2 separate regions of the Homo sapiens genome follow, and region 2 is linked to region 1. The links come from fine-mapping of genetic effects on gene expression. A gene starts in region 1. The other region holds a variant in brackets. All regions are shown on one strand. Distances are between the middles of the regions. Region 1 holds the start of CYP4Z1 (cytochrome P450 family 4 subfamily Z member 1). Region 2 has its middle 8.8 kb from the start of CMPK1.

Region 1 (16,255 bases):
AGTATACCCAGGTAAGAAGCCTGCACATGTACCTCTTAATCTAAAATAAAAGATAAATAAATAAATAAACAAATGCCCCTACTTTAGGCTTCTTTCACCCAAAAAAAGGACTAAAGACCTATGTATAAGAGTCAAAACTATAAAACTCTTAGAAGAAAAAATAGGGGAGGGTCTTCATGAATTTGGACTGGGCAATGGTTTCTTAAAAATGATAGTAAAAGCACAGGCCACAAAAGGAAAAATAAATAAGTTAGATTTCATAAAAATGAAAAGCTTTTGTGTATCAAGGGCCACTAAAAGGGTTAAAAGACAAACCACAAAATAATAGAAAATGTTTGCAAATCATATATCTGATAAAAAAACTTGTGTACTATATATATTTAAAAACTATTACAACTGAACAATAAAAAGACAGCCCAATTAATCACGGGCAAAGGACTTGAATAGACATCTCCAAAGATAAACAATGGGCCAGCAAACAAATAAGATGATATTCAGCATCAATGGGCAAACAATAAGATGATATTCAGTCATTAGGGAAATGCAAATTAAAATAAAATTGGTCTTGGCCTGGTGCGTTGGCTCATGCCTGTAATCTCAGCACTTTGGGAGGCTGAGGCGGGTGGATTACTTGTCAGTAGTTTGAGACCAGCCTGGCCAACATGGTGAAACCCCATCTCTACTAAAAATACAAAATTAGTCAGGTTTGGTAGTGCACGCCTGTAGTCCCAGCTACCTGGGAGACTGAGGCAGGAGAATCACTTGAACCCAGGAGGCACAGGTTGCTTTTAGTGGCCCTTGACACACAAAAGCTTTTCATTTTTATGAAATCAGCATTATGCATAATGGCCAAAAGTTGAAACAATTCAAAGGTCTATTAACAGATGAATGCATAAACAAAATGTGGTATATTCATACAGTAGAATATAATTCATGAAAAGAAACAATGCTACAAAATGTATGAATCTTGAAAACATTATGCTAAGTGAAAAAAGCAAAATGCAAAGGGTCACATATTGTGTGATTCCATTTATATGAAAAATCCAGAATAAGTAAATTCATAGAGACAAAAATGCAGATTAGTAGTTGCCAGTGACTGGGGCAAGGGAGGAATGGGGAATAACTGCTTAAAATTGGTATGAGGTTTCTGTCTGGACTGATGAAAAATTCTGGAACTAGACAGAGATGATAGGTGGATAGCACTGTGAATATACTTAGTGTCCCTGAATTGGATCTTTAAAACGGTTAAATGGCAAACCTTATGTGTATTTTGCCACACACACATAAAAGACAATGCCTATTTCTAGGGGTGAGGAAGAGCATTTTTGGCAATAGCCCCTATATATGGTCAGGATCTTGTAGTGTCTGAATTCCTCAAATGTAACACAGACCCTGGTGTGCACAGTACTAACCTGAGTTCCTCTCCATTGCCCCTATAGGACTTAGGGAGATAGTGGGGCCGATGTTAATGTGAAGCTCATGATACCTATTATGCCATGAGTAATAAACAGTCTAAATCCATTCAGGCCCACTGGCTTTTTGCTGACTGAATTTATGAATGTGCAGTGAACCAGCTAAGTAGCTTAGGGACTGCTTGACAGCTTGATACCCCCATGTCAAAAATATTGGTACATTCATTAGTATCTCTTGAATTCATACAATTATTTCCACCTCCACCCCTCTACCTTTGTCCAGGCCTCCATCATCTGTCCTTTGGACAGTGCAGCAGGATAAGGTGGATTCCTGGTCTCCAGCCTTGATTCCCTCCAGCCATTCATCATACAGCTGTCTGAGTGATGTTTCAAAACACACAGATATTCACAGTACTTCTCTCCTTTGATGCTCACCATTACTCAGCCTACAAAGTTCTGAATGACTGGGCCCATGTCTACCAGCCTCTTCTCTTGCTTTGTCTCCTTCTCCATATCTGGGACAATTTGGCCATCAAAAAAGATGATGATAATGAAATTCAATACACTGATTTCTTAACAATCCATGAATCCTTACTGGTATGCAGAAAGAGAAACAGAGGGACAGAAAGTGAGACAGTGAGAGAAAGGCAGATGGGGGTGGGGAGAGGAGGAAAGTTCCTCATTATAGATAGGGAAAGCTGAAAAATGGAGAAGAAATAGAAAATCCCTATTTTTTTAACCTCTATTAACTCAGATAAAACTTATGCATAAAAAGTTGTTTGGCTCTGGCTATCTATCTATCTATCTATCTATCATCCATCCATCTATGAGCAAATGCAGACTTTATACCATATAAAAAATTAACACTAAATGAATCAAAGAACTGAATGTGAGAGCTACAACTTAAAACTCTTAGAAGAAAACATAAGGAAAACTTCATGACATAGGAGTTGGCAATAATTTTTTGGATATGATGCCAAAAGCACAGGCAGTGAAAGAAAAAATAGATAAACTGGACTTGATAAAATAAAAAACTTTTGCTCACCAAAGAACACTATCAACAGAGTAAAAAAGACACCAACAGAATGGGAGAAGATATTTACAAATCATATATCTGATAAGGATTAATATCCAGAAGATATAAAGAACTACTGCAACTCAACAACAAAAGAAACCAAAGAACCAATTGAAAAAGGTGCAGCAAACTTGAATAGACATTTCCCCGAAGTTGATATATAAGTGGCCAGTAAGCATATGAAAAGATGTTCAACATAATTAATCATTAGAGAAATGCAAATAAAAACCACCATAAGATACCATTTCACATCCATTAGGATAGCTATTATTAGTATTAGTTTAAATAATACAACATATTTTTTATTATTTTTTTTTCTTGAGACGAAGTCTTGCTCTGTCACCCAGGCTGGAGTGCAGTGGTACTATCTCAGCTCATTGCAACCTCTGCCTCTCAGGTTCAAGCAATTCTCCTCCCTCAGCCTCCCAAGTAGTTGGGACTACAGGCATGTGTCACCACGCCTGGCTAATTTTTGTATTTTTTTTAGTAGAGACGGGGTTTCACCATGTTGGCCAGGCTGGTCTTGAATTCCTGACCTCAAGTAATCTGCCTGACTTGGCCTCCCAAAGTACTAGGATTATAGGCTTGAGCCACTGCATCTGGTCTATTTTTTTTTAAATAGAGATGGGATTTTTTCATGTTGCTCAGGTCTTAAACTCCAGGGCTCAAGTGATCTGCCTGCCTTGGCCTCCCAAAGTGCTGGGATTACAGGTGTGAGCCATTGTAGCTATTATTATTATTTTTTAAATCCCCAGAAAATAACAAATGTTGGTGAGAACGTGAAGAAATTGGAACCCTTGTGCATTGCTGGTGGGTATGTGAAATGGTGCAGCCACTGTGGAAAATGCTATCACAGTTCTTCAAAAAATTATATATAGAATTATCATGTGACTCAGTAATTCCACTTTTTGGTATCAACTTGAAATAATTGAAAGGACCCAAACAGATATTTGTACATGCATGTTCATGACAGCATTATTCACAAAAGCCAACTGATAGAAGTTATCCAAGTGTCCATTGTCAGAGGAATGGATAAACAAAATGTGGTACATACATACAATGGAAATTCAGCCTTAAAAAGAAAGGACGTTTTGATATATACTACAACATGGATGAACCTTGAGGACATTATGCTACATGAAATAAGCCAGTTACAAAAGGACAATATTGTATGGTTCTACTTATGGAGGTACCTAGAATAGGGAAATTTAAAAAGACAGAAAGTAGAATGGTTGTTGCCTGAGGCTGGGGGGAGGGGAAAATGGGGAGTTAGAGTTTAATGTGTACAGAGTTCCAGTTTGGGAAGATGAAAAAGTTCTGAAGATGGATGGCGGTGATAGTTGCACAACAATGTAAATGTATTTAATGCCATTAAATTGTATACTTAAAAGTGATTTAAAATGGTAAATTTTTAGTTTATGTATATTTTACCACAATAAAATGAATGTAATTAAAAGAAAAGCACATATGGGAATATGATATCAATTAATGACACTAGAGAAGGGTACAATGGGTGTTCAAAATTTCTCTTGTAGGGTTGAAAATTTTCAAAATAAAAAGCTGGGGATAAGATGATTTGGGTGGGTCTGGCCAGAAATAATAAGAGCAGGATTCTCAGCTCTCCTTTTTTGGCCACCGTGCTTCTGCAGTGGGACTCAAAAAGAAGTACTAATGTGTGGCAGATAAATAACTTAACATCCCATACTCTGTATATTATTCTGCTCTTTTCTCATGTAACTGTACAGTTATCACACTTCAAGGCATAAAATTATCCTTTTCTCTGAGGAGGAGACAATTTTAGGCACCAGCAGGGAATACAAACCAAAGGAAAAGAAAACAAAACAGTAAGAGAAAAAAAGCAAGAGAGGGAGAGAAATTCTTGGCTTCTCTGGGAAGGAGCTAAGGTTGTGAGTTGAAGACAATGGGGACTGAAGAAAATATGAACAGGAAGGATGGCTTTCCCTGTATGGCCTGCCCAGATGCCCTTACAACCAACCACAAAAAAAGAAAAACAGCCAGAAACTAAGCCTCCCTTCTCAAGGGAGTGAACACACTGAAGAGAGAATTTGTAGATAAAGAAGAGAAAATAACTCCAAAGGAGAAACAATCACTTTCCTCTTTCATCCCTTTTGGGCAAAGGTCCAAAGGTGAGAGCAGAGCATAAAGGGGAGCAGAGTAAAGTTTGAAACTGGATAGCCAGACATTTCTTGCACCATTACCAGGAAGAAAGCTGAGATGGTGATTCTGGCAGAGTGCCCTGTGAAATGAGAGAGCCACAGGCTGCTTGAAATTTTGCAGAAGCACCAAGAGTGGTATGGAGGCATTTTATAACTGAATGACTCATGTAGGTAGCTGGGAGAGTGAGGCGAAGGCCAGCCTTATATGCCAACAGGCAGTTGAGGAAAGCCCAGTGGGGGAATCCTACACACATCTTGCCACGGCCAAGAAGCAGCTCTGCAATTCCACGGAATTCCCACACTAGGGACCAGATGGAGAACTGGTGTCCACTTGCCAGAGCCTCCAACCTGGCACTGGCCATTCCCAGAGGACAGGCAACATTAGTGGGCAAAGCATCTATGGGGAACACTCATCTCTGTGCAGCACTGGCGTTAAGCCAATTGTAAGCAAACCACCACTGCATGCCCAACCCACTGTATGTTCACAGTGATGGTAAGTGGTAGTCCTGGGGGTCTGAGGTAAGTAAATGTGATGGAAGCATCAGAAAAAATTTGCCATGTAGGGAGAGAAGATTGCTTGAAAATGGATCAGAGAATCCTCTACAACAGCCCTCAATAGAGTCCTGACTATGATGTTGAGGAGGACATGGAATCTTCCCTTCAACATATCAAATGATGGATTTCCCTTAAAAATGCTTCAACCTGTCCTTCCCTAGTGCCACAGACACCCTGAGACCCTCTTTGTTGCTGCTCTGTACTGTGAGCCCCTCTTGGTTTTTACCTTGTCTTTTCAGGAGAATCTTGGCATAGTCTGGGTCATGGACACTGAAGAACATCGTAAAGGGTCCAACCCACAAGGGAACAGCACATGGGTATTTTTCCATCAGCTTATGATACACCTCAAACTCCTTTACTGGGTAAAACTGTCATAAGATAAGTCATGACTGGTTAGTAAAGGTTGTCACCCCAGGAGGACCCCTTTCCCTCGGATGGACCATGTGCTAAGTTGAGGATCTGTGGACACCACCCCATCAGACAGGTTCACATCTGTTGAAGGCAAGTTTTCTTCTCCATGTGTCTCCAGCACCTCCACAGAATCTTCGTGGCCCTGGGCAAGTGCTCAGGACCTGTTGCTGAGCGATTGGTCTTCTCACTCCAGCGTCAACTTTGGAGATTTAAGTTCAAATCCCAATCTGACACTTATTCATTATCTAGGTCATCAGGGCCATGATTTCCTCACGTGTATAATAGGAAGACCAAATATATTTTACAAAGCTGCCATGAAAATTAAGTGAAATTATAAACATAAAATTCCTGGCACAAGGTAAACCGTTAGTAACCACTGATGCCCTACCTCATCTTTGCTCTGGATATACCCACTCATGCTTTATCTGCCTCCAAAGCAGCGAAGTCTCACATGCCTTTTACTCCTTTTGGTTGCTGCTCATCTTTCAACTTTCCTTTCTAATTTGCTAAATGTTTTCCTATTTCCAGCTTCATTAGAAGCTGTAGCATCTTGGTATAGTTCCTGTTAACAATTGGCTTGGTCTATTTCTCTCTAGAACACCCAGAGTCCTGAGAATAGTAAAGACCTTGGCCTTGAATCAGAAGACCAGGGTTCAAGTTTCATTTCTGTCATTTATGAGGTGGGTAGCACAGGAAAGTTGCATTTCTATTTTAGGCTTCAGTTTTCTTATCTGTAAAACAGGAATAACAATATCTTTCCTCCCCATATCATAGAATTTTTGTAAAAATCACAATGAGATTGGTGTGAAAGCATTTTGCATATTACATAATGCCCCACCAGTCTGTGCTGTTTTTTTTTAATACCTCATCTTTCTGTCCCTTAACCTCCCCAACTAATTTTCTCCTCTTACCTCCTTGTGGCCATAGAACCAGTGGGCAGGGGGTGCAGGAAACAGGTGCAGGGCTCTGATCATCCATCTCCTCCTCTGGTACAACCTGATTACCTGAAACAGCAGCAGAGACATGCAGAGGAGGATCAGCAGCAAGAAGGGGTGAGCCATGAGTTCCTGAAGCCAGGAGGGCTCCATTCTTCTCAGAGGTCCTGAGCTCTGGAGAGCCTGAGAGAACTGAGCCAGGGAGAATGCAGGTCTCTCATAAACACAAAGGAGATGCCCCCTGGGCAACACTGGGCTTTCAAAATGCCATATTCAGGGAGGGGACATAAGGAAGAGGAAGCCTAATTAAGTCTGCAGGGTGAAAACTGCTGAGATGTTGGCCAGCAGACCTGGATTCTAGAAGAACAAGATTTTCAGATAGGAGCCATGTGCATGACAGCTCACACCCATATGAAAGCTTTGCTGCACTGCTGTCCCCTTCCAGAATCTAAAAGTTCCCATCTAGTCATCCTTTGTCACACCTCTATACATTCTTGTAAAAAATCTCCCCCACTCTCATTCTCTGTTCTTTTTTGTTTATGTTTCTGATAGAATTTATCTTTCTAGAGAAGTTTCAAGTTCACAGAAAAATTAAGCAGAAAGTTCAGGGAGTTCCCATATATCACCCCTCCCTTCCAGCTTCCCTGATTATCAAAATCCTCCACCAGAGTATAACACTTGTTACATTTAATGAACCTACAATGACACATTATCGTCACCCAAAATCTTAGGTATATACCTAAGTTTTTTTTTTTTCTATTTTGAAAGGGGTTGAGTTCTTGATTTGATTCTCAGCTTGGTTGCTGCTGGTGTACAGCAGAGCTACTTATTTGTGTATATTAATTTTGCATCCTGTAGGAGCTTTTTGGATGAGTCTTTAGGCTTTTCTAGGTATACGATCATATCATCAGCAAACAGTGACAGTTTGACCTCCTTTTTACCAATTTGAATGCCCTTTATTTCTTCCTTTTGTCTGATTGCTCTGGCTAGGACTTCCAGTACTATGTTGAATAGAAGTGGTGAAAGTGGGCATCCTTCTCTTGTTCCAGTTCTCAAGGAGAATGCTTTCTACTTTTCCCCTTTCAGTATAATGTTGGCTGTGGGTTTATTGTTATGTGGCTTTTATTACCTTAAGGTGTGCCAGTTTTGTTGATGAGAGTTTTAATCATAAAGGGATGCTGGATTTTGTTAAATGCTTTTTCTGCAGCTATTGAGATGATCATGTGGTTTTGTTTTTAATTCTGTTTATGTGGTGTATCACATTTATTGACTTGGGTATGTTAAATCATCCCTGCATCCCACTTGATTATGGTGGATTATCTTTTTGATATGCTGTTGGATTCAGTTCACTAGTATTTGATTGAGGATTTTTGCATCTATGTTCATCAAAGATGTTGGTCTGTAGTTTTCTTTTTTTGTTATGTCATTCCCTGGTTTCGGTATTAGGATGATACTGGCTTCACAGAGTGATTTAGGGAGGATGCTCTCTTTCTCTATCTTGTGGAATAGTGTCTATAGAATTGGTACCACTTCTTCTTTGAATGTGTGATAGAATTCAACTGTAAATCCATCTGGTCCTGGACTTTTTTTTTGTTGGTATTAAAAAAAATTACAATTTCAATCTCACTGCTTGTTATTGGTCTGTTCGGCGATTCTATATCTTCCTGGTTTAACCTAGGAGGGTGGTATATTTTCAGGAATTTATCCATCTCCTCTAGGTTTTCTAGTTTATGCATATAAAGGCATTCATGGAAGTCTTGAATAATCTTTTGTATTTCTCTGGTATCAGTTTGTAATAGCTCCTGTTTCATTTCTAATTGAGTTTATTTGGATCTTCTCTCTTGTTTACTTCGTTAATCTCACTAATGGTTCATCAATTTTATTTATCTCTTCAAAGAACCAGGTTTTTCATTTCATTTATTTTTTGTATTTTTTTTGTTTCAATTTCATTTAGTTCTGCCCTGATCTTTGTTATTTCTTTTCTTCTGCTGGGTTTGAGTTTTGATTGTTCTTTCTCCAGTTCTGTGAGGTGTGACCTTAGATTGTCTATTTTTGCTCTTTCAGACTTTTTGATATAGGCATTTGATGCTATAAACTTTCCTCCTAGCACTGCTTTTGCTGTATCTTAGGGTTTTTGATAGGTTGTGTCACTATTATTGTTCAGTTTAAAGAATTTTTAAATTTCCATCTTGATTTCATTGTTGACCCCAAAATTATTCAGGAGTAGGTTATTTATTTTCCATGTATTTTCATGATTTTGAGGGTTCCTTTTGGAGTTGACTTCCAATTTTTTTTCCATTGTGGTTTGAGAGAGTACTTGATATAATTTTGATTTTCTTAAATTTACTGAGACTTGTTTTGTGGCCTATCATATGGTTTATCTTGGAGAATGTTCTATGTACAGATGAATAGAATGTATATTCTGCAATTGTTGGGTAGAATGTTCGTTAATATCTGTTAAGTCCATTTGTTGTAGGGTATAGTTTAGGTCCATTGTTTCTGTGTTGATTTTCTGTCTTGATGACCGGTCTAGTGCTGTCCATGGAGTATTAAAGTCCCCCACTATTATTGTGTTGTTGTTTATCGCATAGTAATTGTTTTATAAATTTGGGCGTTTCAGTGTTAGGTGCATATATATTTAGAATTGCAGTATTTTTCTGTTGGACTAATCCTTTTATCATTATATAATGTCCCTTTTTGTCTTTTTAAACTGCTGTTGCTTTAAAGTTGTTATGTCTGGTATAAGAACAGCTACTCCTGCTCACTTTTGGTGTCCATTTGCATAGAATATCTTTTTCCACTTACCTTAAGTTCATGTCAGTCCTTATGTGTTAGGTGAGTCTCCTGAAGACAGCAGAAATTTGGTTGGTAATTTCTTATCCATTCTGCTGTTCTGTTTCTTTTAAGTAGAGCATTTGGGCCATTTACACTCAATATTAGTATTGATATGTGAGGTACTAGTCTACTCATCATGCTATTTGTTGCCTGAATAACCTTGTTTTTTTTTAATTGAGTTTTTGTTATGTAGATCCTGTGAGATTTATGCTTTAAGGAGGTTCTATTTTTGTGTATTTTGAGAATTTGTTTCAAGATTTAGAGCTTTGAGCAGTTCTTTTAGTGCTGGCTTGGTAGTAGTGAATTCTCTCAGCATTTGTTTGTCTGGAAAAGACTATCTTTCCTTCATTGATGAAGGTTAGTTTCACTGGATACAAAATTCTTGGCTGACCATTGTTTTGTTTAAGGAGGCTAAAAATAGGACCCTAGGCTGGGCACTGTGGCTCCGTCTGTAATCCCAGCACTTTGGGAAGCTGAGGTGGGTGGATCACGAGGTCAGGAGATCGAGACCATCCTGGCCAACATGGTGAAACCCCATCTCTACTAAAAATAGAAAAATTAGCCAGGCGTGTGGTGGTGTGCCCTGTAGTCCCAGCTACTCAGGAGGCTGAGGCAGGAGAATCACTTGAACCCAGGAGGCAGAGGTTGCAGTGAGCTGGGATCGCGCCACTGCACTCCAGTGTGGGCAACAGAGTGAGACTCTATCTCAAAAAAAAAAAAAAAAAAAAGGACCCAAATCCCTTCTAACTTGTAGGGTTTCTGCTGAGAAATCTGCTGTTAATCTGATAGGTTTTTCTTGACAGGTTACCTGACACTTTTGCCTCACAGTTCTTAAGATTCTTTCCTTCATCTTGACTTCAGATAACCTGATGGCTATGTGCCTAGGTGATGAACTTTTTGTGATGAATTTCCCAGGTGTTCTTTGAGCTTCTTTTATTGGGATGTCTAGATCTCCAGCAAGGCCAGGGAAGTTTTTCTTGATTATTCCCTCAAATATGTTTTCCAAATTTTAGATTTCTCTTTTTCCTTGGGAACACCAATTATTCTTAGTTTTGGACATATAACGTAGTCCCAAATTTTTGGAGGCTTTGTTTATTTTTAAAAATTATTTTGCTTTGTCTTTGATGGGTAGGGTTAATTTGAAAGACTTGTCTTTGAGCTGTTAAGGCCTTGCTTCTGCTTGTTTGATTTTATTGCTGAGACTTTCCAGTGTATTTTGCATTTCTGTAAGTGTGTGTTCAGTTTCCAGAAGTTGTGATTGTTTTTTATTTGTGCAATCTATTTCACTGAAGAATTTTCCTTTCATATCCTGTATCATGTTTTTGATTTCTTTAAGTTGGACTTCACCTTTCTCTGGTGCCTCCTTGATTAGCTTAATAATCAACCTTCTGAATACTTTTTCTGGCAATTCAGAGATTTTGTCTTAGTTTGGATCCATTGCTGGTAAGCTGATATGATCTCTTGGGGGTGTGAAAAAACCTTGTTTTGTCATATTACCAGAATTGTTTTTTTCTGGTTCCTTCTTATTTTGATAGACTATGTCAGAGGGAAGATCTGGGATTCAAGGGCTGCTGTTCAGATTATTTTGTCCCAAGGGGTGCTCCCTTGATGTGATGTTCTCCCCCTTCCCCTAGGAGTGGGGCTTCCTGAGAGCCAAACTGTAGTGATTATTTTTGCTCTTCTGGGTCTAGCCACCCAGCAGAGCTACGAGGCTCTAGGCTGCTACTGGGGAGTGTCTGTAAAGAGTCCTATGATGTGATCCATCTTCAGGTCTCTTAGCCATGGATACCAGTGCCTGCTCCAGTGGAGGTAGCAGAGGGGTGAGGTGGACTCTGTGAGGGTCCTTGGTTTTGTTTTTGTTAGTGCACTGGTTTTGTGTTGGTTGGCCTCCAGCCAGGAAATGGAACTTTCAAGAGTGCATCAGCTGTGGTCCTATAGGAAAGATGCAAACTTGCTGTAGAGACACCTGGTTATGTATTCAGGTTTCTCAGGTGGTGGGCAGGGCCATAGTGCTCCCAAGTGATTATGACCTTCGTCTTTGGCTACCAGGGTGGGTAGAGAAAGACCACAAGGTGGGGTCAGGGTAGGCATGTTTAAACTCAGCCTTTCCTTGGGCGGGGCTTGCTGCAGCTGTTGTGGGGGATGGGGGTGTAGTTCCCAGTCCAATGGAGCTATATTCCCAGGGGTATTATGGCTGTCTCTGATAAGTCATACAGGTCACCAGGGAAGTGGGGGAAAGCCGGTAGTCAGAGGGCTCACCCTGCTCCCACACAGCCTGGAGACCTAAAGGCCAGTCTCACTCCTACTGTGCCCTCCCCAGCTGCAATGAGTCTATTTCCAGGCAGCCAGTGACCAGGGCTGAGAACTTGCTCCAGACCACGAGCCTCCTCATTGAGAAAGGAAGCAGAATCACAGTTTTTGGCTTCTCAGGGAGCCTGCAGCAGTAATCCAGTTACTTCAAAGGTCTGTAGATTCTCTTAGCTTTCCCGGTATGTTCCTGCAGTGGTTCTTGGAGTAAAAGTTCATGATGTGAGTCTTCACACACTGTTCTGTCCAAGTGGGAGCTGCAAGCTAGTTCTGCCTGCTATCTGTCATCTTCAAACTATGTCTTCCTCTTGCCTGATTGCTTTGGCCAGGACTTCCAATACTATGTTGAATAGGAGTGGTGACAGAGGGCATCCTTGTCTTGTGCTGGTTTTCAAGGGGAATGCTTCCATCTTTTCCCCATTCATTATGATGCTAATATGGGTTTGTCATAGATGGCTCTTATTATTTTGAGGAATGTTCCTCAATACATAGTTTATTTAGAGTTTTTAACATGAAGTGATGTCCAATTTTATCAAAATCCTTTTCTGCATCTATTGAGATAATCAAGTGACTTTTATACTTAGTTCTCCTTATGTGATGATCCGCATTTATTGATTTGTGTATGTTGAACAAACCTTGCACCCTAGGGATGAAGCCTACTTGAGCATCATGGATTAGATTTTTGATGTGCTGCTGAAATTGGTTTGCAAGTATTTTGTTGAAGATTTTTGCATCAATGTTCATCAAGAATATTGGTCTGAAGTTTTCTTTTTTTGTTGTGTCTCTGCCAGGTTTTGGTACCAGGATGATGCTGGTCTTATAGAATGAGCTAGAGCAGAGTCCCTCCTTCTCAATTATTTGGAATAGTTTCAGTAGGAATGCTACCAGTTCTTCTTTGTACATCTGGTAGAATATGGCTATGAATTAATCTGGTTCTGGGCTTCTTTGGGATGGTAGACTATTTATTACTCATTCAATTTTGAAGCTCATTATCGGTCGGTTTAGGGATTTGATTTCTTCCTGGTTCAGTCTAGGGAAGGTGTATGTGTCCAGAAATTTATTCTGCTCTTCTAGATTTTCTAGTTTGTGTGCATAGAGGTGTTCATAGTAGTTTCTGATGGTTATTTTTATTTCTGTGGGGTCAGTGGTAGCATCCTCTTTGTTATTTCTAATTGTGTCTATTTGGATCTTCTCTCTTTTCTTCTTTATTAGTGTGGCTAATGCCCTATATATCTTATTATGTTTTTCAGAAAGCAAACATTGAATAGTTTTCTGTGTTTTGATTTCTTTCAGCTCAGCTCTGATTTTGGTTATTTCTTGTCTTCTGCTAGCTTTGGAGTTGATTTGCTCTTCCTTCCGTAATTCTTTCAGTTGTGGTATTAGATTGGTAATTTGAGATCTTTTTACCTTTTTGATGTGGGCATTTAATGCTATGAACTTCCCTCTTAACACTGTTAGTTCTGTCCCAGAGATTCTGGTATGTTCTACCTTTGTTCTTATTAGTTTCAAAGAACTTGATTTCTTCCTTAACTTCATTGTTTACTCAGAAGTCATTCAGGAGCCTGTTGTTTAATTTCTATGTAATTATATGGTTTTGAATGATTGCTTTAATCTTGACTTCTATTTTTATTGCACTGTGCTCTGACAGTGTGTTTGGTATGATTTTGGTTCTTTTGCATTTGCTGAGAATTGTTTTATGTTCTATTATGTGGCTGATTTAAAAGTATGTGTCATGTGGCAATGAGAAGAATATATATTCTGCTGTTTTGGGATAGAGAGTCCTGTAGAGGTCTATCAGATCTATTTAGTCCTGTTGAGTTCAGGTTCTGAATATTTTTGTGAATTTTCTGCCTTGATAATCTGTCTAATACTGACAGTGGAGGGTTGAAGTCTGCCACTATTATTGTGTGTGAGTCTAAGTCTCTTTGTAGTCTCTAAGAACTTGCTTTATGAATCCAGGTGCTCCTGTATTAGATGAATATATATTTAGGATAGCTAGGTCTTAAATAGAACCCTTTACCTTGATGTAATGCCCTTCTTTATCTTTTTTGATCTTTGTTAGTTTAAAGTCTGTTTTGTCTGAAATTAGGATTGCAGTCCCTGCTTTTATTTTAATGTCCATTTGCTCGGTAGATTTTCCTCCATCCCTTTATCTTGAACCTATGAGTCTCATTATGTTTGAGATGGGTGTTTTGAAGACAGCATACCATTGGGTCTTGCTCTTTTATCCAGCTTGCCACTCTGCCTTTTAAGTGGGACATTTAGCCCATTTACATTCAATAATCTATTAATTTTTTAAAAAGTATATGAAAAGTATTTTACAAGAAGTTTTGAGCAAACATTGGAAAGGGATCATAGAAATGAAGTGAATTTGTCTAACAAATATTTAAAAATGTAAATGAATTTCTGCTTATCAGATAAATAAATCTATTAAATGAATCCAAGACAAAACTAGGATATTTCCCAATACATGATGCAAGCATAACTTGGCCATACTTAATATTGGTTCATGAAATAAATTTTCAAGGAGAAAAGAGTGATTTCATATTTATGTTTGCAGAGTGCCCTGGACTTCACATAATGAGCAAGTAAAAGTCTTGGGGAGAGGAGAAAAGGGTGGGAGCAGAATTTTCTAAAACTCACAGTCAGGCTGAAGGTGCATGATCAGATAAATGCTTGCTTAAAACAAAGTGCCCCATAGGGGACCATCAGCCTCCGTCCCAGGGGATGCTTAGGAAACAGCCCAGCCTTCTTTGCTACCTAAATTAGGGAAATTAAATGTTCTTTCATCAGGTTCTTCTCATACACAGTATGAGAAAGCCTTTTGGGTTTTCCTACATGCAAGCAGGTGATGTTTAGACATGAAAATTGAGAAGTACAGCAGGTATGCCAAAACCAGACATGATATTTACGTAGCCAAATTCCAGGAGATTACATGGGCAGAGTCAGGAAATTATTGGCCAGCCTGTTGCAAATTATTGTTTTCACATGGGTCCAACTGGAAATGAATGGCTGATCTCCCATTTAGATTTTATAAAACTATCTTCCAAATTTGGATAGGCTCTAAGTGACTTCAGGATACAAAGAAAGTAACTTTGTGTTTCATTTTACCTTGATTATATATTCAACCACAGAACACAAAATGAAGTTTGTTTTTCATTTAATTATCTGGCTATTTGTATGGTAACCTTCTATAGCTGCAACTTATTTTGCTTTATGTAAAATGTTAACCTCAGGGTTTAGGCAAAAATGTCTCAGAATTAATTATGAAGGCATTGGGACATATAAAAATATTATGTAAGTATAAAATTGTTAATAAAATTTATTGGCCAAAATATGCTAGTATCTTTGATTACTTTGTTCTTATGAATCTCAGGCAATGTTTCAAAAATGTATACTTGCAAATTGTTCTATTTAAAGTTTAGATTAATTTGTAAATATTTCTCATGATTTAATTTATATTGTATTATATTAGCCTTTATCCTTCACTGGCTTTTATAAGTTGGGCAAATACATACTATTAAGATGTATATCTGTATTCAAATAAATAACTACAAAAATTAGAACACCACAGTGAATCTACTTGTCATGAAAGATAAATAATGATATTGCTACCAAAAAATAGTTAAATAATATTCATAGGCCCCTGTCTCTGCCTGTCCCTGCCAGGGTTGTGGAGGTAAAGAGTGCTAGTCTATTACTATAGAAAGGACTCTACATAGGTCTGAGTAGAGTAGGGACAAGAAAGAGCACTACATACTGGAACCACTTATGTGGTTCTGGTGCAGGGCAAAAATATTGGTAGTAGTCAGGAATATACATGTGTTTACAGGTGTGGTGTATGAAAGAGAGAAAGATAAGGAGAGAGAAGAAATGCGAGTCCACATTGCAGTGCTCTGGAAACAGAATGAGGATTGTGTTAGGGTCAAGGATTGCCCGTAGGTCCTCTGGGATGGCACTGAATAAGCAGTAAAAGCAGGAAAGCATGCCATGCAGGGGATACTTAGCACCTCAAATTTATAAAATACAATTCTAAGAACTAATTGAAAAACACTCACAAAGTGAGGTGGTGATCGAGGATGTCCTAAGTGCAACACTCAGCTTAGCCAGAGTGTAGGGGAACCAGAAAATGTTTCTGAGCCTGGAATCATACCAGCAAACTACCTCAGCCTGAAGGTCTTTATTGGAGCAAGGACACCATTTTAAAAGTGAAAAATTATAATTATAATAAAAATAATTATCTGCAAATTCACAAAATTTTATTCAACTGTGAAAACAACTTTGTAGTAGAAGCCAAAATATTTAGAGGAAATGAAATGCTTTGACCTAATTTATTTCATAGAGAGAAAATATGATGCCCTGATTCAGGAGATGAAAAGCTTTTGATGGCACAGATATGTGATCTCACACAGTAAGTTAATTTGATTCAGAACCAAGTAAAGTTTTTTTTGATAAATAGTTTTTTTAAAAAAGAATTTGCACAAGCAAAATGTAAAACCAAAGTTGCAGAAGTTCATGGTGATCAACCAGTAGTTGAACTGCCTCCTA
Region 2 (16,255 bases), 260 kb before region 1:
CCTAGGTGACAATGAGACTGCTTCAAAAAAAAAAAAGGAAAAAAGGCCAGTGACAGTGAGACCAGGGCTGAGTCAAATGAGGGGAGAATGGAAGGTGAAAAGTTGAGAAAGTGAGGTCGGTGGCAGATCAGGACTTTTGATTATGGAAAGGAATTTGGGCTGTATTCTAACAGCAATGGAAGCCCTTTAACTCCGTTCGCCTGCCCCCTTCATTAGGGAAGAATCTTAAGGGAGAAGAAAAGGAGACGTTCAAGAACTGAGCCTTGGTGCATACAGGCCTTTAAAAGGCCTTCTGGCCAACGTTAAGAGCTCATTTGATATTTGAGGTAACGGATTCAAAATAATTGAAGATGTTTGGCCATTCAGGCACAGGCAGAGAAGGCAGCTTGTTGCATTTACTGAGGGTTGGGATTTTGCCTGGCAAGTACAACAGAGAGAGGGGGCCAAGTGATGAGAGTGTTTGGAAGAGAATGTTCATGATGCTGTGTGTAGAATCAAAACCATACAGGAAAGCAAATAATGGCACATGAAGCCTGGTAGTGGAGGGGTTGGAGGGTGGTGGGGAAAGGGACCAATGTCTTAGAGCATTGGCCCAAGAAAGATTGCAGTGGGGTATATGAGCAAGTGCTCTGGCAGTATGGATGCTGCTGGTCTGAGTGGGATATTTGGAATTGAAATGTCCCAGCTTCTGAGTTTCTGATGATGCCAAGGTCCAGGGTGAGACCATGGGAATGGAAGACTGAGGCAGAATGCATGTCCTGTTTTTAGAACTAAGAGTCCAGGGTGTTAGATTTGTCGTACAGGTACAAGTTCAAGTCAGATAGTGCTGGAGTGAACAAAGACTATGGGAAAGGAACTAAGCTGTTTAGGGCAGAGTGACCAGGACGTTAGTAAACGAAAGCAAACAGGAGAGGAAGATAGTGGTATAGCCCTCTGTCTGACCACCCCCATTCTCCTTTTTCTTTTGGTGGTCCTTTCTTAGCTCACTCAGCATTTTCTGGCTCTTCCCCATCTCTACTCTCTCTCCTTGCTTTCTTTTTGTTGTTGTTGTTTTTACTTATTCCCATCCTTCCTACCCTTCTTTTCCCATTTATAAGTCCCTCCCTTCTCCCTGTCTCTTTTCCTGTCCTTCTCCTCACCTACTTGCCTTTGTTTGCCCTTCTTTTCCATTCTCCCTTTAATTTCTACCTCTTTCCTCTCCACAACTTCTACCTTTTCCTTCCCACCATAGAAAGGAGAATGGGATATTTTTTATTATCACAGCTGGAAAAAAATTTTTTTGGGGGGGATAGAGTCTCACTCTGTCACCCACGCTGGAATGCAGTGGTGCCATCTTGGCTCACTGCAACCTCCACCTCCCAGGTTCAAGCGATTCTTCTGCCTCAGCCTCCCAAGTAGCTGGGATTACAGGCACCTGCCACCACCCCTGGTTAATTTTTGTATTTTTAGTAGAGAGGGGGTTTCACCATGTTGTCCAGGCTGGTCTTGAACTCCTGGGCTCAAGTGATCCTCCTGCCTTGGCCTCCCAAAGTGCTGGGATTGCAGGCATGAGCCACCGCGCCCAGCCAGGCCTACACTACACTACAGGTGGTGGTGTGCACCTGTAGTCCCAGATGCTCGGAAGGCTGAGATGGGAGGCTGAGGTGGGAGGATCCCTTGAGCCCAGGAGGTGGAGGCTGAGGTGGGAGCAGCCCTTGAGCCTAGGAGGTGCAAACTCCAGTGAGCCAAGATCGTGCTACTACATTCTAACCTGGGCAACAGAGCCAGACCCTGTCTCAAAACAAAAACAAAACATTTTTCTATGGATACTGAAATTTGAATTTATATAATTTGCATGTGTCCCAAAATATTATTTATTTTTATTTTTAAAATCCATTTTAAAATGTGAACATTATTTTGAGCTTGAAGGCTATACAAAAACAGGGACCCACGTTTAGATATGTGAATTTTCACATAAAAAAACACGGCCGGGCGCAGCGGCTCATGCATGTAATCCCAGCACTTTGCGAGGCCAAGGTGGGCAGATCACCTGAGGTTGGAAACCAGCTTGGCTAACACGGTGAAACCCCAGTTCTACTAAAAATACAAAATTAGCTGGATGTGGTGGTGCATGCCTGTAATCCCAGCTACTTGGGAGGCTGAGGCAGGAGAATTGCTTGAACCCAGGAGGTGGAGGTTGCAGTGAGCTGAGATCGCACCACTGCACTCCAGCCTGGCGACAGAGCAAGACTCTGTCTCAAAAAAAAGAAGGCTCCAAACCCTTCAGCTTCTGGGGAGGAGGAGCTAGGACATGGGCAGCCAAGAACAAGGACAATTGGTCATATTGGGAATGGGTAGCAGGAGTATGAAAAAGGCCATATCAAAACAAATGTGTCTTCTTTTCCTTTGTTCACACAATTAGAGTTAAAAGATCTTAAGGATATGGTGTCTGTGAGAAAAAGGGCTAGGAAGCTATTGGCATACTTTTAGTGAAGGCCTTGGGCTAGAGACAAAAAGACAGTCTTTGTTGTTTCCATGATAGAACACCAGAACTAAGGATTCCACACAGGGGTTTGGGTCTGAAACTTCCTAGTAAACCTACTTAAAGCAATATGTGGTGATTTTTTTTTCACAGAGAAAAAAACTTTCTGGATAATTATGACCACAGTTGGTTGAGTACTTAATGTCCTGTTCCTTGCCTGTCTCCTTCTGCCAGTTATGTTAGGCAACTAAGGAAAATATTAATGTGGAAAGATTTCTAAAAACTGAAACCCAGACACCCATCTCTGCGAAGGGTTTTCCAGGGAGTCATTTCCAGGAATGACAAGGTGAGGCAAAAAAACACTTTATGACTAGTTGGCCCTTTGAGTCTGTTCCAGTTATCTATTGCTACAAAACAGCCATTCCCAAATCAATGACTTAAAACAAGAAACATTCTTTTTTTTTGAGACAGAGTTTCACTCTTGTTGCCCAGGCTGGAGTGCAATGGCACAATCTCAGCTCACCACAACCTCTGCCTCCCGGGTTCAAGCGATTCTCCTGCCTCGGCCTCCCAAGTAGCTGGGATTACAGGCATGCACCACCACGCCTGGCTAATTTTTTTGTATTTTTAGTAGTGACGGGGTTTCTCCATGTTGGTCAGGCTGGTCTCGAACTCCCGACCTCAGGTCATCCGCCCGCCTCGGCCTCACAAAGTGCTGAGATCACAGGCATAAGCCACCAAGCCCTGCCTTTTGTTGTTGTTGTTGTTGAGATGGAGTCTTGCTCTGTCGCCTGGGCTGGAGTGCAGTGGCACCATCTCAGCTCACTGCAACCTCTGCCTCCCAGGTTCAAGCGATTCTCCTGCCTCAGCCTCCTGGGTAGCTGGGATTACAGGCACCCGCCACCATGCCCGGCTAATTTTTGTATTTTTAGTAGAGATGGGGTTTCACCATGTTGGCCAGGCTGGTCTCAAACTCCTGACCTCAAGTGATCCGCCCGCCTCAGCCTCCCAAAGTGCTGGGATTACAGGCGTGAGCCACGGCGTCCAGCCAAAACAAGAAACATTTATTTTGCCTATTACCTGAAAATTGGGCTGGGCTCAGTGGGGACAGCTAATCTTCATCCCACATGGCATCAGCTGGGGCAGCTCAGCTGAGGGCTGGAGGATCCATATCCAAGAAGGCTCATTCACATGGCTGACAGAGGATAACTTTTTTCCTCTTGTGAGTGTCAATACTTAATTTTGGTGTAGAGACGGGAAGCTGGAAAATACACTATTTAAATTTTTCTTGGCTCTCCCTAACATTGTGGAAACGCTCTTTCCCTAAAGACCATGGAGTTTACCATGAGTTGCTTAGGTTTCTTTTTACAGCATGATGGCTAAATGTTACTCTTCAAGAGTAAACATTCCAGGAGATGGGGAGTAGAAACTGCCAGTTTTTAAAACCTCGGTTTAGAAACTGCCACAGCAACTCTTCTTTCACCATATTCTTTCAGTCAACCACACACAGAGCCCAGATTCAAGGAGAGGGTACATAGGCCCTACTTCTCAAGAGGAGTGTCAGGAATTTTGGTGCCATGTTTTAAAGTTTCTACAGGGTCCAAAAGCCCTCTGTGGAACCTTAGATTTAGTAAGCTGAGATGGATCTTATAGAGCTTAGAGAAAACTCTCTTGTATAATCAAGGGAGGCCTAGATGACCTTCCCTCTCTTAGACTCCTCCCTGGCAAGCTAGACCAGATCAACAGGAACACTCAAAAAGAGAAATAAGCCAAGGAAGTTAGGATCTCCAAGTAGCTTTGGGCCTATTTGATCACACTGGCAGTCACATGGGGCCAAGCCGAGTACATGGAATTAATAAAAGACACAATACTACACTGATGCTTGAAAATTCAATCCTATTGCTTGTCCACAGTGAAAGGTCTACCACTTAGCATCTTGATCCTAATTTGTCTCCAAGGAATCCATTTTGTCTTAGCCATATATTAGTGCTCCTTGGAGGTGGCAGAGAAGCATTGAATTACACCTAGGGGTAAGCCACCAGATATGCAATAATAGTATGTCCCAATAAATATATATAGAATAAGTGGATGTCACCCAGTAAAGGGGCATTTCCTAACTATATCCATAGATTGAATCTATAGGCTAAATAAATTTGATTAATATCTATTAAATGTATACTATGGTGGCTCACGCCTGTAATCCCAACACTTTGGGAGGCCAAGATGGGTGGATCACCTGAGCTCAGGAGTTCGAGACCAGCCTGGCCAACATGATGAAACCCCATCTCTACTAAAATACAAATTAGCTGGGCATTGTGGCAGGTGCCTATAATCCCAGCTGCTCAGGAGGCTGAGGCAGGAGAATCACTTGAACCTGGGAGGCGGAGTTGCAGTGAGCCGAGATCACACCATTGCACTCCAGCCTGGGTGACAGAGCGAGACTCCGTCTCAAAAAAAAAAAAAAAAATGTCTACTATGTGCCAGGCATTTTTTGGATAATATTCCAACTTTTAAAATAAATCTATCAGAATACCTGTAAAGATTTCTGTGCTGTCTTTTTGTTTGTTTGTTTGTTTGAGACATACTTTCACTCTTGTTGCCCAGGCTAGAGTATAATGTGCAATCTCGGCTCACTGCAACCTCCACCTCCTGGGTTCAAGCAATTCTCCTGCCTCAGCCTCCTGAGTAGCTGGGATTACAGGCATGCGCCACCACGCCCGGCTGACTTTGCATTTTTAGTAGAGACAGGGTTTTGCCATGTTGGTCAGGCTGGTCTTGAACTCCTGACCTCAGGTGATCTGCCCTCCTCGGCCTCACAAAGTGCTGGGATTACAGGTGTGAGCCATCGCACCTGGCCTCAGATATCTTCTAATTGCTAGATTGTGGGGAGGTCCAGTGTGTCCCAGGGGAGAGTTGGAGGACACTGGAAGTGCTTAGGGAAGTAGCCATATGCCAACTCATATGTAAATGTTTCAATATTTTTGTTGTTTCTTTATTTTTGAAACGAGGTCTAACTCTGCTGCCCAGGCTAGAGTGTAGTGGCGCATCACAGCTCACTTTAGCCTCGACCTCCTGAGTAGCTGGGACTACAGGTATGCACCACCATGCCTCGCTTATTTTTCTATTCTTTGTAGAGACAGGATTTTGCCATGTTACCCAGGCTGGTCTCAAACTCCTGGGCTCAAGTGATCCACCCAGCTCAGCCTCCTAAAGTGCTAGGATTTCAGACGTGAGCCGCCGCGCCCCGCGTGTTTCAATATTTTAATCACCAATACAGCCTTTCCAGTTGGGTATTAGTTAAATATCAGCCTTGCCTTGCCTATGAAATTCTCATAATGCTGTGAAGTTAGTACTATCGTTTTACATAGAGCCAGGACCACAAGGCAATGCCAGGCGCGGTGGCTCACCACACGCCTGTAATCCCAGCACTTTGGGAGGCTGAGGCAGGTGGATCACCTGAGGTCGGGAGTTTGAGACCAGCCTGACCAACTTGGAGAAACCCTGTCTCTACTAAAAATACAAAATTAGCCGGGTGTGGTGGCGGGCGCCTGTAATCCCAGCGACTCGGGAGGCTAAGGCAGGAGAATCGCCTGAACCTGGGAGATGGAGGTTGCGGTGAGCCAAGATCGCGCCATGACACTTCAGCGTGGGCAACAAGAGTGGAACTCCGTCTCAAAAAAAAAAAATCAACAACAAAAAAACCCCACAAGGCAATAGATGACAAAGTCAAATTCAAATTCAGCATGTATGACTTTAAAATGTGCATTTCTATACAACACTGACTCCATGAAAAGTTCCATACTCACAAAAATCCCGTCAAAATATGTTATGTTACAGACCAGAAGACTGATCTCAGAAAGATGTATAGCAAGAGCTATCCTTAAAACCCACCCTTACCCATAGATGTTTATCATTGAGTACATTAGGTCTTTTCACATACATTCAGTACCTGCATACTATTCCCAGGGTATATCTATGTTCCTAGCACCCTTTGTAGGGGATTAGGAAATAAGCTTTGTCACCATTCATCAATCCTATTTATCATAATTGCCTCTTAGAGATAGATATCTGTTCCCATACTTTCATTTTCCCAGACTTGACTACTCCCCTTTGCTGCCTATGTTATATTCATGTTTCAGAATTCAGCTTGAGCCTGGGCAATCTAGTGAGACCCTGTCTTTAGAAAAAATTAGAAAAATTAGACAGATGTGATCCCAGCTACTCAGGAAGCTGAGGCAGGAGGATTGCTTGAGCCCGGGAGGTTGAGGCTGCAGTGAGCAGTGATCATGCCACTCCAGCGTGGATGACAGAGTGAGACCTTGTCTCAAAAAAAAAAAGAAAAGAAAAAAAGTTGGGCATGGTGGCTCATGTCTGTAATCCCAGTACTTTAGGAGGCCAAGGCAGGAGGATCACTTGAGCTCAGGTGTTCAAGACAAGCCTGGGCAAGATGGTGAGACCCCATCTCTTTTGAAAAATTGATTGATTGAGACAGAATCTGGCTCTGTCGCCCAGACTGGAGTATAGTGGCACGATCTCGGCTCACTGCAACCTCCGCCCCCTGGGTTCAAGCAATTCTCCTGCCTCAGCTTCCTAAGTAGCTGAGATTACAGGCACACGCCGTTGCACTCCAGCCTGGGCAACAAGAGCGAAACTCCGTCTCAAAAAAAAAAAAAAAAAAAACAACCTCCCAAGACTGGGTTAGGTGTACCTCTTTTGTGCTTCTACCCTCCCCCATCACGTCCCTTGTTATTTCTGTTGTAGGCCTATGTTGTTATGGGTATCTCCACACTAGATTTAGAGCTCTATGAAGGAAGGGACTCTGTCTGATTACTCTTTGTACAGCATTGAACTAAGAGCATGACCGTGTGTTATTGTTACATGATTCACTCTCTTAAGCAAGCAGGTGCATGCTTTGTCTTCAGGCCTTCATAGCTGTCTATTATATTGTAATCTATTTCCTGGAGTGATGCTTAGTACATTGCATAACCTGATACTTAATAGAGTTTCTAAAATGAAGGTCCCTGCTACTCAGATTTGCTTGGTTATTGTTGTGAGGCTTTATCAAAGGACCTGTTCTCAAAGATTCTGAACATTAGTTCAGGGAAACATAGTATTTTTTTTTTTTTTTT[G/TG]GAGACACAGTCTCGCTCTGTCACCTAGGCTGGAATACAATGGCACAATCTCGGCTCACTGTAACCTCCGTCTCCCGGGTTCAAACAATTCTCCTGCCTCAGCCTCCCCAGTAGCTGGGGCTACAGGTCACACCACCACACCCAGCTAATTTTTTGTGTTTTAGTAGAGATGGGGTTTTACCATGTTGGCCAGGCTGGTCCCAAACTCCTGACTTCAGGTGATCCGCCCACCTCGGCCTCCCAGTGCTGGGATTACAGGTGTGAGCCACCACGTCTGGCCCACATCACATCACTTTGGGAGGCCGAGGTGGGTGGATCACCTGAGGTCAGGAGTTCGAGACCAGCCTGGCCAACATGGTGAAACCCCATCTCTACTAAAAATACAAACATTAACTGGCAGTGGTGGTACACACCTGTAATCTCAGCCACTTGGGAGGCTGAGGCAGGAGAATCGCTTGAACCCGGGAGGTGGAGGTTGCAGTGAGATGAGATCATGCCACTGCACTCTAGCCTGGGTGACAAAGTGAGACTCCATCTCTGAGCCACCACGCCCAGCCCATCTCAAAAAAAAAAAAATGTGATGTGACAAATCTGGCAGCAGACAATATGACTGCTCTCCTGGGAGTGACTTTGTCAGCTGAGCTTAGCTTCATACTGCAGAACTGCAGGCAGACCAGTGAAGGGAGACTGACTGTCTTTAGCTGAATTTACAGCATCTTTGCTAACTTTACAAGCTTAGGTAGGTTGGTTATACCTGCAATTTCTTTGTCTGCAAAATCAGGATGATGGTACATTAGCTCAGTTTAGCAAATACTTTTAGAGAATTTACCAGTATGTGATATTTGATCATTGTATTCATTCCAAATAATCCAAACTTTAAAAAATAAGTAAAATAAGTCAACATGACTTGAGACATAAATTGTAATTGTTGCCTCTTCTAAGATTTTTAAGTGTCTAAAAGGAATTTGGCATAAATTGACAGATTAGCAATCTTCTTTAAAAATATGTTTCTTAAGGCCGGGTGCAGTGGCTCACGCCTGTAATCCCAGCACTCCTTGGGAGGCCAAGGCAGGTAGATCTCCTGAGCTCAGGAGTTTGAGACCACCTTGGGCAACATGGTGAAACCCCATCTCTACAAAAAAATACAAAAATTAGCCTGGTGTGGTGGTGCACGCCTGTAGTCCCAGCTACTTGGGACGGAGAGGGGGCTGAAGTGGGAGGATCACTTGAGCCCAGGAAGTTGAAGCTGCAGTGAGCTGAGATCGTGCCACTGCACTCCCACCTGGGTGACAGAGAGAGACCCCATCTTTTTTTTTAAAAAAAAAGACATAAATAAAATAAAAATATGTGTCTTAAAAGCAAAGCTGTAGTTGTTTTTAAAAATCAGTAGTACAATTTAGCTTAGAAGTGTAAATTGAGAAAGGGAAAGTTGGGTGTTTGGAGAAACTTAGTACAGTAATAAGTAACAGAACCAGGAAGAGGAGAAATAACAGATTCCAACTTCCCTGTTCCTGGTGATAACAATAGCTCTTTAATCCCCATAGCCAGTCTGTTAGCAGGCACCATCAGGGTTTATAGCACTGAACATTTACTTAGTCTAATCATAAAGACCATGTCATGTGGACAGGGACTGAAAAGGAATAAGGAAAAACAATTGATGTCTTTGGGTTGCTATAACAGAATACCATAAACAGGTAGCTTATAAACAGCAGAAATTTATTTTTCACAGCTCTCAAAGATAGGAAGTTAGAGATCAAGGAGCTGGCAGATTTGGTATCTAGTGAGGGCCTGCTATCTTGGTTCATAAACAGCCATTTTCTCCGTGTGACTTCACAGGGCAGAAAGGAGCAAGGGAGCTCTCTGGAGGTTTCTTTTATAAGGTACTAATCCCATTCATGAAGGCTCTGCCATCATGACCTAATCACCTCCCAAAGGCTCCAGCTACTTACTATCATATTAGAGGTTAGGACTTCAACATATGAATTTTGTGGGGAACACAAATATTCAGTCTACAGCAGTTAGAATATAGAATTCTGGATGAATTTTTCCTTTTACAATTTTTTTCTTGTTATAACATTGTTTATGCAACAAATTCATACTTTTAAAAAAATGACAAACTGGAAATGGTTATCTGTGAAGCAAACTAAAGAACTTGGAAATTTAAAAAATAAAACCAGTAGCTTTTCTCTGTAAGGGCCAAAAGTAATAGCAATTCCACAGTGTCTTGAAATGACACATGAATGGCCAGGTGCGGTGTGGCTCACGCCTGTAATCCCAGCACTTCGGGAGGCCGAGGTGGGTGGGTCACCTGAGGTCAGGAGTTTGAGACCAGCCTGACCAACATGGTGAAACCCCGTCTCTACTGAAAATACAAAAATTAACTGGGCATGGTGGTGGGTGCCTGTAATTCCAGTTACTCAGGAGGCTGAGGCAGGAGAATTGCTTGAACCCGGGAGGCGAACGTTGCAGTGAGCCGAGGTGGCGCCATTGCATTCCAGCCTGGGTGACAGAGCAAGACTCCATCTCAAAAAAAAAAAAAAAAAAGAGAAAAAAAAAGAAATGACACATAAATATATATAAACAGAGATCAAAGACTAGCATGGTATCTCTTCAGTCTATTTAAACTGGCCTGTCATCTAACAATTATTCATATTTGCTTTGGGTAATTACCTCTTATTACACAGCCTATAAAATTGTGCCTTCCCTGTTCTATGCTTATCATGTCCTTTCAACTCCCCATACCAGCTAGCACTAAAGCTTAGTGTATAGTAGGTCCTTGGTATAGCATTTGTAGATTTTATTCCATTAAACTTAATTCTCTTTCTTTTTGTTTGAGATGGAGTCTCGCTCTGTCGCCAGGCTGGAGTGCAGTGGCGCAATCTCGGCTTACTGCAACCTTGGCCTCCCAGGTTCAAGCGATTCTTTTGCCTCAGCCTCCCGAGTAGCTGGGACTACAGGCGTGCGCCACCACGCCTGGCTAATTTTTTTTTTTTTTTTTTTTTGAGACGGAGTCTCGCTCTGTCACCCAGGCTGGACTGCAGTGGCGCGATCTCGGCTCACTGCAACCTCCCCTCCCGGGTTCAAGAGATTCTCCTGCCTCAGCCTCCCGAATAGCTGGGAGTACAGGCGTCTGCCACCATGCCTGGCTAATTTTTTTGTATATTTAGTGGAGACAGGGTTTCACCATGTTGGTCAGCCTGGTCTCAAACTCCTGACCTCAGGTGATATGTGCACCTTGGCCTCCCAAAGTGCTGGAATTACAGATGTGAGTCACTGCGCCCAGCCCTTATTCTCTTTCTAATTTAACAAATCAGTTCCCTTAATCTCTTTGAACACAGGGCAATGTGTTGCTCATTTATTAATAATGTCAACTGCCAGTACACCTAGACTAATAATAATATATGGGTGGCCCCTTTAACTTTCACACTCATTATGCATTAACTCTTTTTTATGATAATGTACAATATGCAAATGAGGAAAATCAATCTCAGAGAAATTAAATGGCAGAATTGGGGTCAGATCCCCAAAGCTATTGATTATTGCATTATAATTCAAAAAAAAAAAGAAAACATCTGGGGAAATAAGCTCTTTAGTCACTTCCAAGCTCTCCTAAATATAATGCTGAATCATTCCTATCCTAAAATGAAGTCAATAATTACTTTTCATTTCAGTCAAAAAGTATTTATGCATAGTGTTAAGTGTATATCCTGCTTAGAAGTCCAGTGGTAGGCCAGGCATGGTGGCTCACGCCTGTAATCCCAGCACTTTGGGAGGCCGAAGCAGGCGGATCACAAGGTCAGAAGTTCGAGACCAGCCTGGCCAAAATGGTGAAACCCTGTCTCTACTAAAAATTCAAAAATTAGCTGGGAGTGGTGTCGGTTGCCTATAATCCCAGCTACTTGGGAGGCTGAGGCAGGGAGAATTGCTTGAACCGAGATCATGCCACTGCATTCCAGCCTGGGAGACAGAGCGAGACTCCATAAAAAAAAAGTCCAGTGTTAATAAAATGTTTAATTGAACTCTCATTGGTATTTGAGTTATTACTAAGCAAAAAGGAAGACATGCTATTTTAGTTGTTCTAAAGATTAGCACATGCCTCAGCTCTCACCTTGTACTTTCCTTTTTTCTTTGTAATAGACTCTTTAATTTTTTTAATCCTAAGAATTTGCCTCAGTCAGGCACGGTGGCTCACACCTGTAATCCCAGCACTTTGGGAGGCCGAGGTGGGCGGATCACCTGAGGTCAGGAGTTCAAGACCAGCCTGGCCAACATCCTGAAACCCCGTCTCTACTGAAAATACAAAAATTAGCCAGGTGTGGTGGCAGGCACCTGTAATCCCAGCTACTTGGGAGGCTGAGGCAGGGAGAATTGCTTGAACCTAGGAAGTGGAGGTTGCAGTGAGCTGAGGTCCAGCCACTGCACTTCAGCCTGGGCAACAGAGCAAGATTCCGTTTCAAAAAAAAAATTTGCCTCTAAAACACTTTTTTTTTGGCTATTGTCTCTTACTGGAAGGATTTTTGTTTGTTTTTAAAAATTATATTTTATAATGAATAGAGATGGGGTCTCACTATGTTTCCCAGGCTGGCCTTGATCTTCTGGGCTCAGGCAATCCACCCACCTCAGCCTCCCAAAGTGTTGGGACTGCAGGCGCAAGCGAGTGTACCAGACAATACTTTATTTTTTTTAGAAGTTTTATATTTATAGAAAAATTGAGAACATGGTACAGAAGTTCCATACCCTACACCCAGTTTTTCATATTATTAACATCTTATATTAGTATGGTAGGTACATTTGTTACAGTTAATGAACAAATATTGGTACATTATAATTAACTAAAGTCTATATTTAGACTTTCTTAGTTTTTACCTAATGAGGTTTTTTTCGGTCCGTGATCCCATCCACGGTATCACATTACATTTAGTTATCATATCTCTTTAAGCTTCTCTTGACTCTGGCAGTTTCTCAGGATTTCCTTGTTTTTGATGAGTTTAACAGTTTTGAGGAGTACAGGTCAGGCATTTTACAGGATTCCTCACTATTGGAATTTGTCTGTCTTTCTCAGAATAATACAAGGTTATAGGTTAATGGGAGGAAGACCACAGAGATAAAGTGCCCCTTGCTTTTTTCTTGTGACGGAATCTCACTCTGTCGCCCAGGCTGGAGTGCAGTGGTATGATCTCACCTCACTGCAACATCTGCCTCCCGGGTTCAACCGATTCTTCCACCTCAGCCTCCTGAGTAGCTGGGACTACAGGCGCATGCCACCACACCCGGCTAATTTTTATATTTTTTGGTAGAGACAGGGTTTCCTCGTTAGCCAGGCTGGTCTCGAACTCCTGACCTCAAGTAATCCACCTACCTCAGCCTCCCCAGGTGCTGGGATTACAGGCGTGAGTCACCGCCTCTGGCCTAAAGTGCCTTTTTTTTTTTTTTTGAGACGGAGTTTCGCTCTTGTTGCCCAGGCTGGAGTGCAATGGCATGATCTCGACTCACCACAACCTCCGTCTCCCGGGTTCAAGCAATTCTCCTGCCTCAGCCTCCCGAGTAGCTGGAATTATAGGCATGTGCCACCACGCCTGGCTAATTTTTTGTATTTTTAGTAGAGACGGGGTTTCTCCATGTTGGTCCGGCTGATCTCAAACTCCCGACCTCAGGTGATCCGCCTGCCTCGGCCTCCCAAAGTGCTGGGATTACATGCATGAGCCACCGTGCCCAGCCTAAAGTGCCATTTTAATCACATCATATCAAGTGTGCATAGTAGTCTGGGTGCTGTGGCTCACGCCTGCAATCCCAGCACTTTGGGAATCCGAGCACTTTGGAGGCCCAGTACTTGAGGCTAGGAGTTCAATACCAGACTGGACAATATAGACAGAATACTTGCTACTGAAGGAAAAAAAGAAAGTTGGGCATGGTGGCACCCTCCTGTCGTCTCAGCTACTTGGAGGCTGAGGTAGGAGGATCATTTGAGACCAGGAGGTTGAGGTTGCAGTGAGCTATGATTGTGCCACTGCACTCCAGCCTGGGCAACAGCAAGGCACTGTCTCTAAAAAACAAAAAAAGGAAACAGAAGTGTACCTACTATCAGCATAACTATTGAGGTTGGCTTGATGACCCACCTGAAGTAGTGTTTGTCAGGTTTTCCCATTGTAAAGTCACTTTCCTCCCTCTGCCTTTCTCCCCCAACCCAATACTATACACTTAGAAGAAATGTCATTATGTGCAGCCCACACCTAAGGAGTGGGGGGTTATGTGTTAGGCTCACCCCTTCCTTTTTATCTAACTCATACTACATTTCTCTTTCTAATATCAAAGTAGTTTTAAAGAAAATCATAAATCATGAGAAGCTGACACAGCGTTCCTTTCTTTTACATGCTAAATTCAATCTGGAATCAAATAGTATTGATTATTCCTTCAAAATATATCCAGAATACAATAACCTCTCACCACCTCCATTGCTACCATTCTGGTCCAAGCTACCATCAATCTCTCTTCTAAGTTATTGCAGCAGTTTTTTAACTGGTCCCCTTGCATCTCTGCCCTTGCCCCAAACAGTCTATTCTCAATATAGCAATCAATGGTCCTTTTAAAACCTAAAATCATAGCCTCACCCAGGCGCAGTGGCTCACGCCTGTAATCCTAGCACTTTGGGAGGCCGAGGAGGGAGGGTTGCCTGAGATCAGGAGTTTGAGACCAGCAGGGCCTATATGGTGAAAATCCGTCCCTACCAAAAATACAAAAATTAGCTGGGCGTGATGGCAGGGGCCTGTATTCCCAGCTGCTCGGGAGCCTGAGGCACAAGAAATGCTTGAATCTGGGAGGCGGAGGTTGCAGTGAGCCTAGATGGCGCCACTGCACTCCAGCCTGGGCAACAGAGCGAGACTCCATCTCAAAAAACAAAACAAAACAAAACAAACAAAAACCTAAAATCAGATTATGTCAGTCCTGTATATAAAATCTTCCAGGCTGGGGGTGGTGGCTCACGCCTGTAATCCCAACACTTTGGGAGACTGAGGCAGATGAATCACGAGGTCAGAAGTTCGAAACCAGCCTGGCCAACATGGTGAAACCCTGTCTCTACTAAAAATACAAAAAATGAGCTGGACGTAATGGCGGGTGCCTGTAATCCCAGCTACTCGGAGGCTGAGGCAGGGTTCATCACTTGAACCCAGGAGTCGTAGGTTGCAGTGAGCTGAGATCACACCACTGTACTTCAGGCCCGGCACCAGAGTGAGACTCTGTTTCAAAAAAAAAAAAATTTTCCAAAGGCTTCCCATGTAACTCAGGGCCTTTGCACTTCATGTAACCAATGGCCGTCATTGAGATGTGTCAGTGATCTCAATGACTTAGATCTCTTTCCAGAAAGAACTTTCCAGTCAGCTGCAAAGACTGCAGTTGCCTGACAGCCTCCTTTGGAATCTGCCTTAGCTTTGGTGCTTGTTCTTTCTTGGAAGCCTCAGGCAATGACTAGGCACAGCAAGAATTCTAGGGCCTAGCCATTTCTGCCTAATGTGGGACTCCTGTAATGGGCAATCTTTGCTCTGGAGCTCCTTATTGGGCTGGCCAACAGTTTGTCAGACATGCATGGCTGTCTGAGGCCCTTCCTGTTCTCACACTAGAGCTCAGGAACTGACCATCATTCCCCTTAAAATTTGTACCCTAGATGCCAAGAATTTTTTCAGGAAAGCAGAGAATGATGCTCTACAGAGCACATCTTTCTTTCTTTTTTGTTTTTTCTGGAGATGTAGTCTCACTCTGTTGCCCAGGCTGGAGTGCAGTGTTGTGATTTCAGCTCACTGCAACCTCTGCCTCCCAAATTCAAGTGATTCTCCTGCCTCAGCCTCCCTAGTAGTCGGGATTACAGGCGTCCACCACTACGCCCAGCTAATTTTTGTATTTTTAGTAGAGATGGTGTTTCACCATGTTGGTCAGGCTGTTCTTGAACTCCTGACCTCAGGTGATCCACCCACTTCAGCCTCCCAAAGTGCTGGGATTACAGGCGTGAGCCACCACACCTGGTCTTAGAGCACATATTTCTTTGCTAGTTTGATACATTTTTCAGAATAGTGTTTTCACTCTCTTAAAAGGGTAGCTGCTTATTCTGACCAGAGCAGCCTACAAATACAGCTCGGACTTTAAGATATTTCCATATTGCTCAGGAAACTAACAAAAGTGGAGTGTTGAGGAAAATAAGTGACATTTCAAATCCTGTCTCTGCACTAACTAGCTGTGGGATCTTAACACATTTCATCTCTTGTTAAATAGGGATAACACTTCTCTACTTTGGCTTTTAGGAGAATAATATCAGATACTGGTGGAGAAAGCACTATTACCACATTAGCTGTGGAAATAATTACAAATTATCAAAGGAATATTAATACCATATAAACAGTCTTCCCTCTGTATCCATGGGGGATTGGTTCCAGGAACCCCAGGGATACCAAATTTGGCCCACAGATACTCAAGTCTTTTATATAAAATGGCATAGTATTTGCATATAACCAATGTACAGTCATCCTTATACTTTAAATCATCTTAAAACAAAAATTAATTGGGGATGGTGGCATATGCCTGTAGTCTCAGTTTCTAGGGAGGCTGAAGTGGAGGATCACTTCAGCCAGAAGTTGAGTCTGTGGTGACAGAGTGAGACCCTGTCTCAAAAAAAAAA

The links. PIP is the estimated chance that this variant, and not a neighbour inherited with it, causes the effect. A credible set is the group of variants that fine-mapping cannot tell apart.
Region 2: its variant is the best candidate, but not a certain one, in a credible set for the expression of CYP4Z1 in skeletal muscle (FUSION, PIP 0.87).

Annotation. Positions count from the first base shown.
Region 1 is chr1:47,057,954-47,074,208 of GRCh38, reverse strand. It overlaps CYP4Z1 (cytochrome P450 family 4 subfamily Z member 1), which reads right to left and starts at 6,978. Exons shown (of 12, transcript NM_178134.3): 1 at 6,542-6,978; 2 at 5,446-5,587. The coding sequence starts at 6,718.
Region 2 is chr1:47,316,844-47,333,098 of GRCh38, reverse strand. No RefSeq gene overlaps it. Among named protein-coding and RNA genes, the nearest start is that of CMPK1, 8.8 kb to the left of the region's middle. The variant G/TG (reference allele first, on the strand shown) is at 7,591.